Linked DNA regions of Homo sapiens. The protein of the gene in region 2 purifies or fractionates together with the protein of the main gene of each other region. This does not show direct contact. Each region holds a gene or a part of one and is shown on either strand. Other genes may lie near its edges.

Evidence for each region.
Region 1: the proteins of UBXN7 (region 2) and HSD17B10 purify together in Homo sapiens (affinity purification with mass spectrometry, with the first as the bait; one study listed by BioGRID). This does not show direct contact.
Region 3: the proteins of UBXN7 (region 2) and BRWD1 purify together in Homo sapiens (affinity purification with mass spectrometry; 2 studies listed by BioGRID and IntAct, with this or other methods). This does not show direct contact.
Region 4: the proteins of UBXN7 (region 2) and FAM91A1 purify together in Homo sapiens (affinity purification with mass spectrometry, with the first as the bait; 2 studies listed by BioGRID). This does not show direct contact.

The regions. Positions count from the first base shown.
Region 1 is NC_000023.11:53,431,454-53,436,416, forward strand, and holds the start of HSD17B10 (3-hydroxyacyl-CoA dehydrogenase type-2), read right to left. Parts: upstream 2,918-4,963; 5' UTR 2,893-2,917; coding exon 2,866-2,892; intron 2,434-2,865; coding exon 2,269-2,433; intron 959-2,268; coding exon 794-958; intron 664-793; coding exon 535-663; intron 454-534; coding exon 345-453; intron 142-344; coding exon 1-141. UniProt on the Homo sapiens protein: Mitochondrial dehydrogenase involved in pathways of fatty acid, branched-chain amino acid and steroid metabolism. Acts as (S)-3-hydroxyacyl-CoA dehydrogenase in mitochondrial fatty acid beta-oxidation, a major degradation pathway of fatty acids.
Region 2 is NC_000003.12:196,362,270-196,367,145, forward strand, and holds part of UBXN7 (UBX domain-containing protein 7), read right to left. Parts: intron 419-4,876; coding exon 25-418; intron 1-24. UniProt on the Homo sapiens protein: Ubiquitin-binding adapter that links a subset of NEDD8-associated cullin ring ligases (CRLs) to the segregase VCP/p97, to regulate turnover of their ubiquitination substrates.
Region 3 is NC_000021.9:39,191,516-39,195,807, forward strand, and holds part of BRWD1 (bromodomain and WD repeat-containing protein 1), read right to left. Parts: 3' UTR 1-4,292. UniProt on the Homo sapiens protein: May be a transcriptional activator. May be involved in chromatin remodeling. Plays a role in the regulation of cell morphology and cytoskeletal organization. Required in the control of cell shape.
Region 4 is NC_000008.11:123,788,264-123,792,555, reverse strand, and holds part of FAM91A1 (protein FAM91A1), read right to left. Parts: intron 2,944-4,292; coding exon 2,811-2,943; intron 1-2,810. UniProt on the Homo sapiens protein: As component of the WDR11 complex acts together with TBC1D23 to facilitate the golgin-mediated capture of vesicles generated using AP-1.

The sequences.
Region 1 (4,963 bases), on a different chromosome or scaffold from region 2:
GGAATGGGTTCTCGATGATGGCCTGTACGAGGTGAGCATACTCAGCAGGGTCACCCAGTCGGCTAGGGAAGGGCACTTGGCTGGCCAAGAAGTTGCACACTTTCTCTGGGAGGCTGGTCAGCAGTGGGGTGCCAAACAGACCTAAACAATATAGCCAAATTCAGAGACTCACCCTTGCTTTCATGATTACCTGGTTCTTCCTTACTTTAGCCCTACTTCTTGGTGCTTCTCTGGGGCCCAAAGATAAAAGGCTGCTGCTGCTTAGGTGGTGGATACCTTCCCCTCTCAACTGTCCATGGATCCCACCCAATCCCAGGTATGATGGAGAGAGGGGATATGTCTACCTGGGGCAATGGTCATCACCCGGATACCTATGGGAGCCAGATCCCGAGCAATGGGCAGTGTCATGCCCACTATTCCCCCCTTGGAAGCAGAGTATGCAGCTTGTCCAACCTGGAGAAAGAGTAGAAGTCATAGGTGGGAGGGCCCCAACAAGTCACTTAGGAGGCATAAGTCTTACCCCTGCCCACACACCTGACCCTCGAAGGCAGCCACACTGGCAGTGTTGATGATGACCCCACGTTGGCCTCCCTGGTCTGGTTCATTCTGGCCCATCTCACCAGCCACCAGGCGGATCACATTGAAGGTGCCCATGAGATTCACCTGTAGGACAGATGGAGACATGCTATAGGACCTGAGGCAGAAGAAGCCTTTGTCCCCTAAAAACTTTGGGGTCCTCCACAGCCAGATACTTCTTACTACCACTATCCCTGGAGAACTTCCAAGGCCTTACATCAAGAACTCGCTGGAAGTCTTCCAAGGTATGGGTCTGGCCCTTCTTTAAGTTGTACGTCTTGCTAGCCACCGCGATGCCTGCACAGTTGACAGCTACATCCACACGGCCAAACTTTCCTTTTGCTAGAGCCAGAGCTGTTTGCACATCCTTCTCAGAGGTCACCTTCAAAGAGAGAAGTGGAGAAGGTATTCATCTCCCAGCACCCACTCTTCCCACTAAACCTGAGGGAGGGCAGGGCAGGGCATGCCCAGTCCTTGGGTGAGAAGAGATTTGTGAGAAGGGAGAGGCCAAGAGAAAGGTTGTAAAACTTGAGAGATAGGCTGGGTGCGGTGGCTCATGCCTGTAATCTCAGCACTTTGGGAGGCCGAGGCTGGTGGATCACTTAAGATCAGGAGTTTGAGACCAGCCTGGCCAACGTGGTGAAAACCCGTCTCTACTAAAAATACAAAATTAGCCGGCATAGTGACACATGCCTGTAATCCCAGCTACTTGGAAGGCTGAGGCAGAAGAATCGCTTGAACCCGGGAGGCAGAGGTTGCAGTGAGCTGAGATCGTGCCATTGCACTGCAGCCTGGGCAACAGTGAGACTCTGTCCCAAAAAAAAAAATTGAGAGAGTAGGTCAAAGGTGAAAATATTAGGTAATATAGAGCAGTGTTGCAAAAACATTTTTCAAATCAATACCTTCTTGATAAATTCACATGCTCCTGAAGATTCTTAATTGCTGTGGATCAGAGCACTAATGCAACCCTGTTGTGAGGCTGGGTGCAGTGGCTCACACCTGTAATCCCAGCACTTTGGGAGGCCGAGGCGGGCGGATCACGTGAGATCAGGAGTTCAAGACCAGCCCGGCCAACATGGTGAAACCCCATCTCTTCTAAAAATACAAAAAAAAAAATTAGCTGGGCGTGGTGGCAGGTGCCTGTAATCCCAGCTACTTGGGAGGTTGAGGCAGGAAAATCGCTTGAACCCAGAAGATGGAGGTTGCAAGGAGCTGAGATTGTGCCACTGCACTCCAGCCTGGGCAACAGAGCGAGACTCCATCTCAAAAATAAAAATAAAAAATAACCCTCTTGTGAGAATTATTGATAGGAAGATAAACTAGCTTTTTTGTATCCTTACCTGCTAAGATGATTTCATCAAGTTTCACTTTCTGTAGTTTGTTTCATGAAAACAAGTTTTTTGACTTTGTAAATATAAAATTACAAGGCACAAAATGCATTTTCAAACCATACATAACTCCTCCAGGAGATTGTTACGTCCAATCCCCATCCTCATTGTTGTGAATCCCAGCTTTAGAGAATCCTTATCACAGGTGGTCCCACAGTGCTTGAAGGCTCAGGCCAAAAGAGACAAGGAGATGGGTCTACCGCCCCCATAGAGGAGACCCTTATGGGAGGGACCCCCACAGGTTCCCAGGCCGGTGTTGGTGACCTCATGCACACCCTGGGAGAGGAGAGGTGACCCCACTTACGTCGGCTGGGGCGAAAACGCAGTTGTTTCCTAACTTCTTGGCTTGGGCCTCCCCACCCGAGTTGGGCAGGTCCAGAAGCACAGCAGAGGCTCCCTGCCCCACAAGTCGCTCCGCCGTGGCCAGGCCCAGGCCCGAGGCTCCTCCGGTTATTACCGCCACCAGGCCCTGTCAAAAGGGACATGGTCAGGGTCAGCTGTTACATTGCCCAGACCATCCCCACGCTGTCGCCTGCCTGTTCTCCAGGCTTCTGAGGAGAAGGGGGGAGGGGAGAGGTCGTGGTCACCCCTGCGGGTAAACTAGGTGTGCTGCTTCTCCTCAGCGTTGGGACCTCGGGGGCAGAAGGGATCTCATCCCCAGACAGCCCGTCCCGTGACGATAGATAGATAGATGATTGATAGATAGATAGATAGACAGACAGACAGACAGACAGATGCGCCGCGGAGTGCTGACTTTCACCTCTTGAGCCCAACGGCCACAATACCAGGCCTACATAAGCATGACCCTTTCCCTCGAAACCGATCTCTTTCTCCTAGTTCCACGGCCGCGCTGTCCCGGCCCGTAAAGGAAGGCAAGCAACAGAGGCAAAGAACCTTCTACCTTCACGCTCCGACACGCTGCTGCCATCTTGTCGCCGGCCACTCCACGGGATGGGGATGGGGGCGCGGGCGCTCGTTGATTGGCCGAGGCGAAGCGGCGGAAGGGGCGGATGCGACGGGCCGGGGCGTCTGCCGCTGCCGCATGAGACGTGGGGGCGTGGCCTGGTACGCTAGTCCTTTGGCCAGAGGGCGGATTCCGCCTGCTAAGGTATCCCCAGAGTTATTTCAACTGGGGAAAGAGACCAATAGCAGAAGTACAATACCACAACACCCCTCGCCCTACTCTCTAGCTGGCCTTTTGGCAAGTGGCCTGCTCCGCGTGGGGGAAGAGGGGTGGATATTGAGAACGGATGCCTTTCTCCTCTGAAAAAGTCTTAATTCAAGTATGAATGTATTTGAGACTCCTATATGCTAGACGGTGTGCGGGGCACCTGGGATACCCAGCGGAATAATAAAAGATTCATGCCTTCCAGGAGGGCACAGTCCAGGTGGAGAAAGAGAATTACAGTACAGACACAGACGAATGGACGGAACCAGATTCTGGGACACTCAGACAAGGAGATCCAAAGATGAGGAGTCTGAGTTAGAGAGAGAGAGAGCCATGTAAAGAGAAATATGTTGAGGCCGAGATAGGAAGAGAGATGCCAGGTAGGATCACAGAGAGATGAATGTGGAAAGCCGCTAAGAGAGATGCTTGGAGACAGACATTCTAGGACAGCTGCTGAGAAGCACAAACCTAAAGAGGCAAAAACATCTTTCATCAGTTCAGGCTTTGCTACTCTCCTCTATCTTTGTCTAATTTAAGTCCAAAAGCCCAGATCACACACTGCAGATTGGACTTCAACCAGAGACTATTATTTAAGACCCAGGTCTTTGTCATCCTAGAACATCTTTCAGGCAGCTTCCAGAAGCTATGTCATTAGAGTCTTGAGCCCAGATATCTAATCTGTCTTCCTTCTATACTTTTCCTCAAACCAAGGTCTTCAGGCCATAAATCTTAGCCCACCATTTCAGCCTCAGAACTGCTTTATGTTTTCTCTATCTGAAATATCTCCCCCCACTTGCTTTCTCACCCAGGAAGATTCCCCTCCAGGCCTTCTAGTTGTTGACAGCCACCACACTCATAATCACTACACCGTATTTACCAAAGGATTTAGCACACCGGTCTCACAATTTTCCTATCTACATGAAGTGCTTCCATCAATTTATAGCACTCTTCATCCGGCCCAATATGCTGTAGCCACAGTGGCCTCCTTTGTGTTCATCTTTGCATTAGCTGCTCCCTCTGCTTGGAATGCTCTCCCCTGATCTTTGCATGACTGCTTTTATTTTTTTTCATTCAGAACTAAGCTTAAATATCACCTTCCCAGAGGGGTCCTCCCTAAATATTCAAACTGTAGCCACCTAGACACTATCCCATTGCATATTTGAATTATCTTCATAGCACTTGCATGTCCGTAATCCATTTTCCAACCTTAGGGCCAGATGTGCTGTGGAATTCAGAGTTTTTTTCAATTTGAGAAAGGAAGACATGTAATTTATATTACATAACTCTTTAAAAAAACTAGTCAAACATAACTTTTTGTATAGTCTATATTATATAACTATTGAGAAAAGCCTGGAGCATCGTAATGAAATATTAATATTTCTGAAGTGAAAGGTATGAAAATTCACACCAAGTGTGAATAAAGACTATAAATAGCCTCACACTACTTCAGGTCAGGTTTTGTCATCTATTGAGTTTGGGCTCCAAAGTATGAAAAAACAACCTTATGCTTTTCAGAAGTTTTGGCATTGCAGGATTGTGCCTACAGGCTTGTGAGCCTGCATGCTCCGCTAACCTGGCCTTGTTTGTGTAGTTCTCCCCCTGCTGGAAGGTAAGCCCCATGGCACCAGGGGCTTGTCCAGCTGGTTCACCTAATGCCGAGAACACTGCTTGGCGTGTACAAGACACTTAAAACAAATGTGTGAAATAAATGAATTAATGAATTAATCTTGGAAGAATTTCCAGGCACAGTTTCATGATTCTTTCACCTGCCCAACTCCGGGAACCTTCACCTCCTCTCTACTTTAACCACCTGTCCAGGCCACCTTATTGC
Region 2 (4,876 bases):
AAAGTATGTCTAAATGTAACTTACCATTTACATCTATCCCCTCCACTACTCCATCTGCTTTTTCAGGTGGCATCTCCAGTATCTCTGAATCCACAGCTGGCAATCCTTGGTGGTTTGTGGCTGTTCCAGGATCAGTTCTGACTGGTGGCTCAGTCAGCGGCCTTCTATTCTCCTCTTTTCTATGCCCCAAATCTTTGTGGGGAGACTTTCTGGACTTGGCAAGATTCTCTACCTCTTCTTCTTCATCAGAGCCACAAACGGATATGAACTCCTCACTGCCAGAAAAAAGTTCAGATTCAGATTCTTCATCTGAGCGGCTATCCTGTTTTGTCTGTGTTGAATCAAAATGTGTTTCTTGTAAGGAGGCTCTGATGGCAGCTTCTAGCTGGCTGTCTTCACTTGCATCTATAAGGCTCTCCTGTGAGATGGAGTCATAAAACACAGGAAAAAGAACAAGTTAAACCAAAAAACAAGTCAAACGGCATAAGAAATATAATAGCTTGCCATTCATTATTATGTTCTGCTGACTGTATCCCTTCTACTTTAAGAGCAAGGACTGTGTCTTACACAGCCAAATTGGAATGGAGATATATATATGTGTGTGTATATACACACACACACGTTTTTGTTGTTTTGTTTTGTTTTGTTTTTGAGATGGAGTCTCACTCTTGTTGCCCAGGCTGGAGTGCAGTGGCACGAACTCGGCTCACTGCAACCTCAGCCTTCCCAGGTTCAAGCGATTCTCCTGCCTCAGCCTCCCAAGTAGCTGGGATTACAAGCGCCCGCCACCACGCCCAGCTAATTTTTATTTATTTATTTTTTTGTATTTTTAATAGAGATGGGGTTTCACCACATTGGCCAGGCTGGTCTCAAACTCCTGACCTCGGCCTCCCAAAGTGCTGGGATTACAGGCGTGAGACACCGCACCTGGCACATACATACATACATACATACATACATACATACATACATACATACATAAATATATATATACACATATTTTTTTTTCTTTCTTTTTTTAAGAGACAGGGTCTAAGTTCCCCAGGCTGGTCTTGCACTTCTGGATTCAAGTAAGCATACGCATTTTTTTAAATATCAAAATGAAGGCCAGGCCGGGTGGCTCATGCCTGTAATCCCAGCACTTTGGGAGGCCCAGGTGGGTGGATCAAGAGGTCAAAAGATCGAGACCATCCTGGCCAACATGGTGAAACCCCGCCTCTACTAAAAATGATTAAGCTTAGTGAGAAAGGCATGTGGAAAGCTGAGACAGACACAAAGCTAGGCCTCTTGCACCAAACAGCCAAGCTATGAATGCAAGGAAAAGTTCTTGAAGGAAATTAAAAGTGCTACTCCAGTGAACACACAAATGATAACAAAGCAAAACAGGCCAGGCACAGTGGCTCACACCTGCACTTTGGGAGGCTTGAGGCGGGCAGATCACCTGAGGTCAGGAGTTCGAGACCAGCCTGGCCAACATGGCGAAACCCCATCTCCACTAAAAATGCAAACATCAGCTGGGCATGGTGGTGCGCGCCTGTAGTCGCAGCTACTCAGGAGGCTGAGGCAGGAAAATCACTTGAACCCGGGAGGCAGAAGTTGCCAGAGATTGCGCCACTGCACCCCAGCCTGGTGACAGAGCGAGACTCCATCTCAAAAAAAAAAAAAAATCAAAACGAACAAAATCAAGAAAAGTTTATCTATTACCTGCCTAGAGAAAGACAAGAATTAAAAGTTTTAACTATAAAGTCAAAACACCATTCTTTAAAATGACTAAAACATAGAGACAAATGTTTACTTTGTTCACCACTGCATTCTTCAACTAGTAATTCCATTAATTACAATGAAGGTTTTCATTATGATAACAAGAAATGCAAACTTCTACAGTTTTTCCCTTGGTAAAGTTCTAATGCCACAGATTTTACTAAACTTAATGAATCACAAAATACGTTGTTTGAGTGGAACTTACTTAGCTCCTGACTCAAACATACTATAGAGGAAAGAAATCGTAAGATAATCTAAAATTGAACACTGGATATTTCAGGATATTACAGAATTACTGCTCATTTTTAAGGGTATAATAATGACATTGTGATAGTATTTTTAAAAATAAAAAAGGCTTTATCTTTTAAATATATATGCCAGAGTATTAATTAATGAAACAATGAATTCTGAGATTAGCTTCAAAATAATTCAGATGTGATGGGATACAGAGGAAAGAAGACTGGCCATCTGCTGATAATTACCGAAATTAGCTAACAAAGAGGCTCAATAAACTACTTCAACTTTTGAATATGCTTAAAATTTTCCATAATAAATAGGTAAAAAAAAAAAGTGTGAGTTGCTAATAAAAAACTAAAGAAACCACATTTTGGCTTTTACTATCAGGCAATCATGTAGCAAAAAATTAAAGGGAAAAACATTTTTTTGCTGGTTGTTTTTTTTTTTTGAGAGAGGTTCTACTCTGTCACCCAGGCTGAAGTGCAGTGGCACAATCTCAGCTCACTACTATCTCCACCTGCCAGGCTCAAGCAATCCTCCCACCTCAGCCTCCCAAGTAGCTGGGATTACAGGCACACACCACCACACCCGGCCAAAGGAAAATTTTAAAGTAAACTTCAGGCGAACTTACCACCCCTAAAAAGCAAGTAGAGGTGTCTATGTGACATGCAATGGCTTAGGTGGATTGTAAATTTATAGCAATGACATTGCACATATAGCATGTAGCTCGATTTTAAAAATTGTGGCCATGGCAGACACTGTCAGGCTCCTATTGAATTTCATTCTCCTCTGATTTCCTTACTTATATAACCCTATTTAAGTTTATAAAACGTGTTCAACTAAAAAATTCATTTTACTAATTTCTCTTGTAGCTAGAAAATAGTATTGAGCAATAGCAATTCTTATCGAAAAATTATAGAATTAAATGCTTATATTAGAAGAGAGAAAGGTATCAAATTAATGACCTAAGCTTCCCCACCTTAAAAAAAAAAAAAAAAAGAGTATACATCCAGGAAAAGAAAATAAAATTAAGCTCAAAGAAAACACAAATTAATAAATGACCTAGAAAGCAAATACAATAGAGAAAAACAAAAAAAACCCACCAAAATCCCAAGAGCAGTTTTTTGTTTTGTTTTGTTTTTTGTTTCTTAAGAGACAGAGTCTTACTGTTGCCCAAAGACTGGAGTGCAGTGACTACTCACAGGTATGATCATAGCACACTACATTCCTGAACTCCTGGGCTCAAGCAATATTCCTGCCAAGCAGATGGGACTATAGGCACATGCCACACCCCAGCTGGTTCCGTAAGATCAATAAAACTACTAAGCCTCTGGCCAGACAGTCGGGGGAAAAAAGGGAAGCCACAAATTCCCAAAAACAGAATTAAGAGAGGGGACAACTACAATCTCTACATTCATTCATGGCATCACGAGGGACTATAATGAACTCTGACAATATAGTAAAATGAACAAATCCCTAGAAAGATACAACTTGCTAAAGCTTATCCAAGAAGAAACAGATACCAAGTAGTCACGTATCTACCGATAAGATTGAATTTGTAGTTTAAAATTTTCCACCAAAAAAAAACTCTAGGCCCATGTAGCTTCACTGGTAAATGTCATCAAACATTAAGGAAGAAATAACAACAATTCTACAGACACTACTGCAGAAAACAGAAGAGGAAGAAATACTTCTCAATTCATTGTGAGGTCAGCATTAACATGTTACCAAAAGCAGAAAACGACATTATAAAGCATTACATGGAAGAAAGGAAACAACAACAACAAAATGCTCTCAAAAAAACTATAAATCAAGCAGGAGAACTGCTTGAGGCCAGGAGTTCGAGACCATCCTGGCCAACAAGATTTCTATACTATCCCTTAGGGCTTTTCCTTAAATAGGCACTTTATTATAGGTGATAACTGAAGGAAGTGTTCCTCACATCTTCTAAAACTATTTTTAGGCTGGGCATGGTATGGTGGTTCATGCTTATAATCCCAGCACTTCGGGAGGCCAAGGGAGGAGAATTGCTTGAGCTTAGGAGTTTGAGATCAGGCTGAGTAACATATTGAGACCCTGCCTCCACAAAAAATAAAAAATTAGCCAGGCATGATGGTGCACACCTGTAGTCCTAGCTACTCAGGAGGCTGAGGCAAGAAGATTGACTGAGCCCAGGAGTTCAAGGCTAGCAAGTTTTTTTTTTTTTTAAAGTTCTCTCAAGGCTGCAAAGACTACAGTGAGTTAATATCATGCCACTGCAGTCCAGCCTGGGCAACAGTGTGAGACCACATCTCAAAAAATACAATACAATACAATAAATACAATACAATACAATAAAAATGTTGCTAGGTGTGGTGCTCACACCCAGAATCCCAACATTTTGGGAGGCTGAGGCGGGAGGATTGCTTGAGGCCAGTTTGAGACCAGCCTAGACAACATACGGAGGCCTCCGTCTCTACAAAACTTTAACAGCTTAGCTGGCATGGTGATGCACATCTGTGGTCCCAGCTACTTAGGAGGCTGAGGTGGAAGGATCGCTTGAGCCCAAGAGGTGGAGGCTGTAGCGAGCCATGATCACACCACTGCACTGCAGCCTGAGAAATGGAACAAGATCCTGCCCAAAGAAAAAAACAGGACGGGCGCGTTAGCTCACGCCTGTAATCCCAGCACTTTGGGAGGCCGAGAAGGGCGGATCACTTGAAGTCAGCAGTTTGAAACCAGCCTGCCCAACAAGGCGAAACCCCATCTCTACTAAAACTACAAAAATTAGCCAGATGCAGTGGTGTACGTCTGTAATCCCAGCTACTTGGGAGGCCAAGGCAGGAGAATCGCTTGAACCCAGGAGGCGAAGGTTGCAGTGAGCCAAGATCACACCACT
Region 3 (4,292 bases), on a different chromosome or scaffold from region 2:
ATCTTATGTGAAGTGGAAAACTAAAGATCTGCTTGACAGGCTCATGTAATTTTTTGATTGGGATTTTGTAGGTGAATATATAGTTGCAGTCCAAGGACTGATTCACATTTAGAAAATTAACTTGAATATATCAAAAATTAAAGATCCCTTTAACTTTTACCCACTGATCAAAAAAGGTAATTTTTAAAATGATTTACCTTGTAAAACAAAGGGGTAGAGCTGCTACAGTCCATCTAGGCTCTATATACTGGTCATCTCATTTCAGTTAGGTCAATTGGACTGCCTCTTCTCTTTGGCAGTCTAAAATCTCATTTAAGGGCTTTAATAAATGAAAAAACTTACCTTAAAACTGACATAACTAAAATATGACCAGAAAGTATACCATAGCATTGATAATTAAATTCAAACTATTGGTCTTGCCATACTTGAGAAACAGATGTATAGTCTAATTATTTACATGTTGCCAAAGATAGAGCCTGCAGATTGGTAGAATCCAAATGATGTGACTCTCCCCCTCCCTCCATCAAATCTAGAAAAGCAATTCTTGAGCAGACACCAATTTAAAGATATTTTTCTACCAATTTAACAATATATTAGGAACCAGCTTGGCAGATTATGAAAAAGGTAAAAATCTCTTACTTTTGAGAATCCCCATGTATCCTTGGGCAACATCTCTGTAATTTAACAGCCTTTAAAACTTAAAATCGTAAGAAAAGACAACACAGCCCTTAGCATTACATACTTTACTTTTCAATCCTTACTATTCACAGTTTGAGCTAGGAATTAACATTTGCTAATCTAGTTGGACTCAGTTTTTCCCACAATGCTCTATTTTCTCACCTAGTTTTGACAAATTTATTCCTTCTCTTCCCAAATACTAGGATAAGAGACAGTCTCAAACTGTTAAGTTGCAAATTTCTTGGGGTTTCTGCTTTATTATTTCCTTGATATCCACAGCAGAAATTCAGAGGTATAACTTCAACATTAACAGGTGAAAAGTTCTACAATGACTTGTTGCACTCTATCACATTAAAATAATTGAACTATAATTTCCATACAACATAAGAAAACTACAGTATTTGGTGACAACTGCAAGATACCTGATAAATAAATATATCAACTTACTATTCATGAAAAGAATGGAGCTGGTTATTTCAGCTTTAAAAGGGCAAAGCAAAAAGACCATTTTCTAGCCATTTAAAAGTTACTCAAAAAATTGATACAATGGAGTGGAAAGGAAAACAAAAAAGATCGTAAGCACCTTTAACAATGTTCTTGCATTCTACTGATATACAAACCTCTGGGGTTTCAGTTGGCACAATCAAGTTCAACTTGTACTAACAGAAAATATTAAAATTCTTCCTATTTTTAATATCAAACAGGGAGGTTAGTAAATTGTTTTCTGATTCTTCTACAAAAAAAAAAGTCTAGAAGACAGAGGGAATGTAGTGTGCACCCCTTATTCTAAGTGATAATTTTTACTTACGAGGTCATAACGAGTGCAAAGGGCTTAGTGATGCATCTTATTCTTTACTTTTGGACAGTAACACCCTCAGATGGTATTTTTATTGGTTTGTTTTATATTCCCCTTTTCCATTTGCCCTTCTGTTTTGAAGTGCTTTTTCTTAAAACTTAAGTTCTTTGCCTCCATTTTCTTATAAACCCAATTTCCTCTTTAGGTGCAGCTCTACTATTTGAAAGGAACCTTTCTGTTGTAATTTACAAGCTGTGAGTAACTGCTATATCATTGTTTCCAAGGATTAATAAACTGAGAAATGATTTAATCAGATATTTGCCACTTACAAAAAGGGAGGCTGACCTTAGGAATTATTTGAATATGGGATAAACTTTTCCTTTTATTCATAAGTTACTTCACATTGTAAGTATACCTTTTTAAATAAGGAGGACACGAAAAAAGAAAGCTTTGTTAACACTCATCTATCTTGTCAATGTTTGAAATCATTTTTCCTTTATATGCTTGGTAAAGTGAGTCTTTCCAAGAAAGCAAAAATCAAATCTGAGTACTTCAAAGCCTGTAAAACCATAAATGAATAAAACCATAGGACTTTGGACATACACAACCAAAGTAGTTTTTGTTTTTCACATACACCATTAAGTTGAACTTCAAGTGCAGTGGAAAGGTACAGCACTTATTTCTGGATCAGTTCACATTCAAATTATAACCCTTTATCTTTTTCTCAAGAATACTACAAACTGACCCTAAACATTAAAGTACACCTGTGCATTAAATCCCTGGGCATTTTGCATAACGTAGAAAAAAAAGGCCAAACATGTTCTAGTGCTCAATGTAAACATTTTAACTATTAATGATTTATTAATTTTCCTTAAAGGTACTTAGGAGTGTGTGTGTCACATATTCAAAGTTAACCTTAGGAATAGCACCATAACCAAAAAAACCCATAAAAATTATTTTCTCCATTATCTCTCAGTTTTATTTCATAACTTGAGAAGCTACCATTGTCGGCTATGCTTTTAAAGACATCAGGTCCATTCTTGCTGCTTCTGATGAAACCAAATCTGATTAAAAACCAAAATACCACTTCTGTATGCAAGGGTCTAACTATTTTGGACTGAAAGAAAAAATGGTAATTGGATGGCCAGTCAATGACCAATTAATGCAGTCCAAATAATCAGAATAGTTCTATTAATGAAGCCTAAACTGTCAAAATATTGTTTTATACCAAAAGAATGTATGTACTTATGAATGTATTCCATATTTATTTATGGATTTTTTTGGTACCTTTTTGCAAATGATGGTAAACATGGAGTTAAAACCTGAGAACAGATTATAAAAGAGAAGGTTAAGAAGAGTTTAAATAAATTAATGGATTTGACATCTATCACCAGTTTTTAAAATTAGCAAAGTAAAAGGCATCCCATTAGTCTTTTCAGTCTTAGTCAAGGACAATTATCATGAATCAATCTGTTTACTATCTACTTAACACAAGTTCTGAGAAGAAAAGCATCATAGTTCTGAAATGGTGATAGCTCTCTAAGCCACAAATGAGAGGAGGTTTCCCACCTATCTCAGTTGATAATGTCCAAAAACATCCTTCCCCATGCATCAGAGTAGAAAGAAAATGTACCTTCTACTATGTCAAATGGAATAGATAACTACAAAATAGGAACACTTCAGAACATTCTCTAACATTAATACCAGTCTGATGCTTCGCCTTGTCTGCCACTTCAAAGATACACAGGAGAAAAGGTTTTGTCTGAAACCAAACACAATTAGGGCTAATAAATAACATTGTCTAATATTGATACCAGTCTGATGCTTCACCTTATCTGCCACTTCAAAGATACACAGGAGAAAAGGGTTAATTTTGTCTGAAATCAAACACAATTAGGGCTAATAAATAACTTACAGGTGGGGTACTGTAACATATCCCTTACCCACTAAATATGTAAACCATTTGAATCAAGTCCATCTTCAGGCACAAACAAGTTAGGAATGGCCATCTACACTGGAGTAGCATAACCTATCAAGTATTTGGTTAGAAAATAAGTGTACTATTTGTGTGATAAACTTTCACTTTAAATGGATTATAAAATTATTTTCCCACAAAACATGACAGTTTCTTATATTTGGACTAGAAGTCACTAATAAAGATACATTTAGTTGCCCCAGCAAAGAATGCTTAGGATTGCACATGGAAGCAGTAAACTAAAACAAAGAGATGGAGAATGACATTTAGCTATTTTCCTATATAGATAAGATTTGCAATTGTACTCTTAACAAAACTCACCTCTACAATTGGAATACAGATGGGGGAAACCTACATATTAACTTAAATACTCTTTTAGCCCTGTACACTCTATTAAAGAACACACTTCTAAATCTAAGGCACACGAATTCCTCTATTTCACAGAGTAAGATTATGGAAGAGCAAGATTTTGGTTAAATCCCTTACAATGGAAACCAGGAGATCTTGGACAGAAGACAGATTATATAGCATTTTGTTAGTGCACAATTTAAAAGAAAATGCTCTGACTATGCTCTGGTCCTAGAGGTTTAAAACATGCACTCAAATCATTAAAAATAATTTACCAGCACTTTATAAATTCAAGTTTATAACATAAAAGTGACAACGTTTTCCTTAAGAAGAAAAAAACCCAACAGCACTTGGGAAGAAAATTAGAAACCATTTCAATGAAAGTGACCAGATCTGGTATAATGCATTCTACTCAAGTAGCCAGGGGAAGAAAAAAAAAAAAGTGGTAGGTACCTCGCCTACTAATCATGGTTACACCTCCCATGATTATAGTGT
Region 4 (4,292 bases), on a different chromosome or scaffold from region 2:
GCCAAATTATAAACAGTGGTTTTTATGTCTGACTTATACTAATCACAGTTAAACAATGTCCTTTTAAAGACAAAGATACCTGGGGGAAAAAAATCATGCTTAGAAAACGAGAAAAAAACAGACCACGCATGACTTTTATTTATAAACAGTACGCCGTGCTATTTAAAACCAAGGGATTAAGGACTCCTAGGACTAAGACACTAGTTCCATGTATAACAGAGTTTGCTTGTATAATATCACAATGCTTTTGCTTTATAGTAGATAACAAGTACTACATGATATACTCAAAGTATAAATTATTAGTGACATAAAAAGAAAATTCTTTTTCCTCAAACAAGACGCTTAAAACACCAATACTAGAGGATTTCTTTTTTTTCTTCTGAGACGGAGTCTCAGTCTGTCACCCAGGCTGGAGTGCAGTGGTGTCATTTCAGCTCACTGCAACCTCAGCCTCCCAGGTTCAAGCAATTCTCCTGCCTCAGCCTCCCGAGCAGCTAAGATTACAGGTGCCTGCCACCACACTTGGCTAATTTTTATATCTTTAGTAAACACGAGTTTTCACCATGTTGGCCATGCTGGTGTTGAACTCCTGACCTCAAGTGAACCGCCTGCCTCGAGCTCCCAAAGTGCTGGGAATACAGGCATGAGCCACCACACCCGGCAGAGAATTTCTTTTCTAAAAAAGAGTAAGGTTCAGTTACCAAGCCCAGTAACTGCAGAAAGCAACATTTCTCAACAGGCTGAGCATGAAGCCTTAATGCCCTAAGATATCCTCTACATAGAACGAATGACCTTTTTCATGCATTGAGAACGGTACTAATGTGCACCATCATTAGAAAAACTGAGAAATAGTCACGCCAATCATTTCCATGTTCTGCAATTCAGATGAGGAGCTAAGCTAAGAAATGCTGGTAGCAAAAATGAAATTTCATAAGTAATTGCAGGTTTGGTCTTAAGGGGAGGCATTCATCAAATTTAACTTTGGAGACCCAGCAATTATTCTAAGCAATTAAATCTCCAACTAGGGTCAGGAACAGTCTAACATTAAACCCACCTTAAAGGTTAGGATTGCACAGGACTATTTTCATAGAGAATAGGTTTAGATTTACCATTTAACTTACTTCATGGTACACTGACTATTCATGGGGAAAAAATTTAGCCCAGCCCAGACTACTAAGCAACAAATGTTTATGGGTAAATGAATACAAAGCTTAGCGTTCAAGAGAAGATAATATAGGGACAGGGCAATGGAAAAAAAAAAATCAACAGACACAGATTCAAGTCTTCCATTCCTGGCTCTTCCATTTACTAATAATATGGGCTTTGATGACTAAAAAACAAGCAGAAGATTTAGCTAATATAAACTCCAATTTCTTTATCTATAATAGGAGTTACACTTCACTGGTCACTAGTACTCTCTAATGTTCTCACATTCTGTGATAGGCAGGAAAGGACAATGTATTTCAAGACAGCTTTAACAGAGTATTTCAAATCATCTAATACATTATCTCCATAAATCACTAAAAAGTCCCAGAAATTCCAGGAGTTTTATATCCAAAGACATCCTCAAGACTGTGCCACTCACCACTGCTTTATCACATGATTTAGTATTTATTAACCAAAAATGGTTATCCATCAACAAATGCCTACCAGTAAGTGCTTAGGACTCTCGGCATTTGGCAATTTAATATTCTCAGTTTTAACTATTTATGAATGATCTCAAAAGCCCCAGTATGTAACAATCTGTAATTCTTCAGATAAGGCATATTAAGGCTGCAGAAGTGAATCACTTGATACCAAGTGAGTCTAGCCTCACTCAAGTAAACTACCCAGCATGTTTGTTCTCACCTATGTGACAGCTTGTTAAGTAACAGCTGAATCCTCCCTCAATTTTTAAAATTGAGCTGAAAAGAAAGCCAGATGCTAGTGAGAGAATAAATGAAAATGGAGATGATTAAGAAACTGATGTTCTTGGCCAGAAAAAATAGTTTTTAGGTAAATGAAACTAATCAAAATTAAACGTTATAGTGGTATTGAGGACCCATGAAGCCCCAAGACACAACTCTTGTGAATGTCTAAGAACTTGAGCCAAGTGCTCATGCAGGGGTGCCCAAGCCTAGCTGAGCACTGGAATCATCTTTTAAAAAACACACATTCCTGAGTGCCATGCCACACCTCAAAACCTACTGAATCCAAATCCCCATCTGGGTAGAAATTCTGACACCATCAATTCAACTAAAGTTTGGGAACCCCCAACTATCACAAAACTGAGAGTGCCCAGTAGGGCAACAGCTCCATTAAAGTTCATCAATACCTTAAAATTGCTGCTACTTCTTTTACTCTTTAAAAAGAATTATCTATTTCCTTTTTAAAAGTAAAATCTTTTGGTAAGTATTGCAGTAGCATTTGAACAGAAGGCTCCTCTTTATTCTTTTCATTATGATGGAATCTTTCATTCTTGAAATTTTATGCTTCCTACATTAACTAAAATTTTGCCCTTGTTCACCCCTCAGAGCTGATGCCTGTTCTAAATTCCATCCAGCTACTTAAATAAATTAACACCAACACTTTTGCAGGTATTGAACAGATTTAAATACTACAAATGTTAGTGGCACATGAGAAAAGTAAAATAAGGTTAAGAAACAGTTAACAAGCAAGAAATTCACAAAACAGGCCTCTAGTTATAAATTCAATATGCTATCTACACAAAATACGTAAGTGATGATTATATAAGTGAGCATGATCTGTTTAATTTCTTAGAAAAAAGTTTCATATGATCATGTCTTCAAAATTAAATATATTTATCATACCATAATTGGGTTGGTCTGGCTGTGCAGTTTGCGCAACTAGATCTTTGTTATGACGCAGAAACAGTATTGTGTTTCTCAGAGTAAGTGCATGATCAAAATATCTCTGTGCTTCTCCTTCACCAGTGCTCTGAACCTAAACCAAGAGAAAATAGATTTTGCAACAAAAATACCACTTTTATGCCATTCACTCTAATAATCATATAATAGAGATATAAGACATTATTCAAAAGTAGTAAATCAAAAATTTGCCCAGGCAATACCGAAACAAGTTATTAACCTCAGTCTTGGTTGAGTTCCCAATTTTACTACATCTATGGAGATAGAAATTACTTCAACTAAGACTAACAATTTTAGCAATTGAATAATGCTAAGTTATAGCATTATATGTTACATGTTCCAAATGATTCAAATAGAGTGCTTAAACAACTCTAAAACCCGTATTCTGCTCCATCTAGGAAAGTACTCCAAGGTCACCAGTTTTACCTATAATTCTCATAACTTTGTTCACAATTCTGTATTACCAGTTACAAGAGACACTGGAGTCTGTGATTCAACATAGCTGTTCACCATTGCTGAACACACAGCTTAAATTCACTCAACAAAGATTTACTTAGTGCCTCCTATGGACTATGACCTCCCTAGGAGATAAGGATAGAGTAATGGACAAAACCCCTGCCTTCACTGGCCTTATAGTTTAATGTATGCTCTTCTGAATAAGTCTGAATAAGTCACCTTTTAATAAGTAGAGACATATATCCCAGAAACAACACAGAAAATGGAATGATAGGTCTACCAACGGGAAAATAACTAAATCAGATTTGCATACATTTAAGAAATCAATCTTAAGATCAAACTACTTAAAAAATAGCTAAGAATCCACTTTAAAAACTAAGCCTCAGACTGAAAGGCTTTCCCAAGAATGACTTTGTGATGAAAAAGAACATAGATTTATGAGTAAAAGAGCAGAAGTCAACTTGCAATTTGCTACATTTGATAAAAGACTAGCTGAGGTGAAAAAAAGATAAAAATCAGAAAACCAGAACTTGAAATGTGCAGTAACATAGTAAGAAATTTATTAGTAGAAGATAATATACAATAAGAAATGGGGTTAACAAATAAAGAAGCATGAAGAAATAAATGGCAGTATAAAGGTAAAAGTAAAAGAGACCAATTAATAGCAAAGGATTATCTCACACATATTTCTGCACTAATAAAAGTAAAAATCCTATGGAGTAGGAGCAGTGAAAAATGTTACAGTCTTTTTTTTTTAAGATATAAAGGAGTTGCAGAATCACCACAAATTCTCTAAACAGTGCATTGAAAATACAAAGTTCATCATAAAGCACAAAAGGCACGAAAAGTATTAGTCAAGGAACAGATTAGGCACACAAACTATTTGAATACAAAGAGGCCAGAATAAAATATCCGAAGAATGAAAAACACCAATAAAGGGCAATCAGATTTATTTAGAGCTAAGGAAAA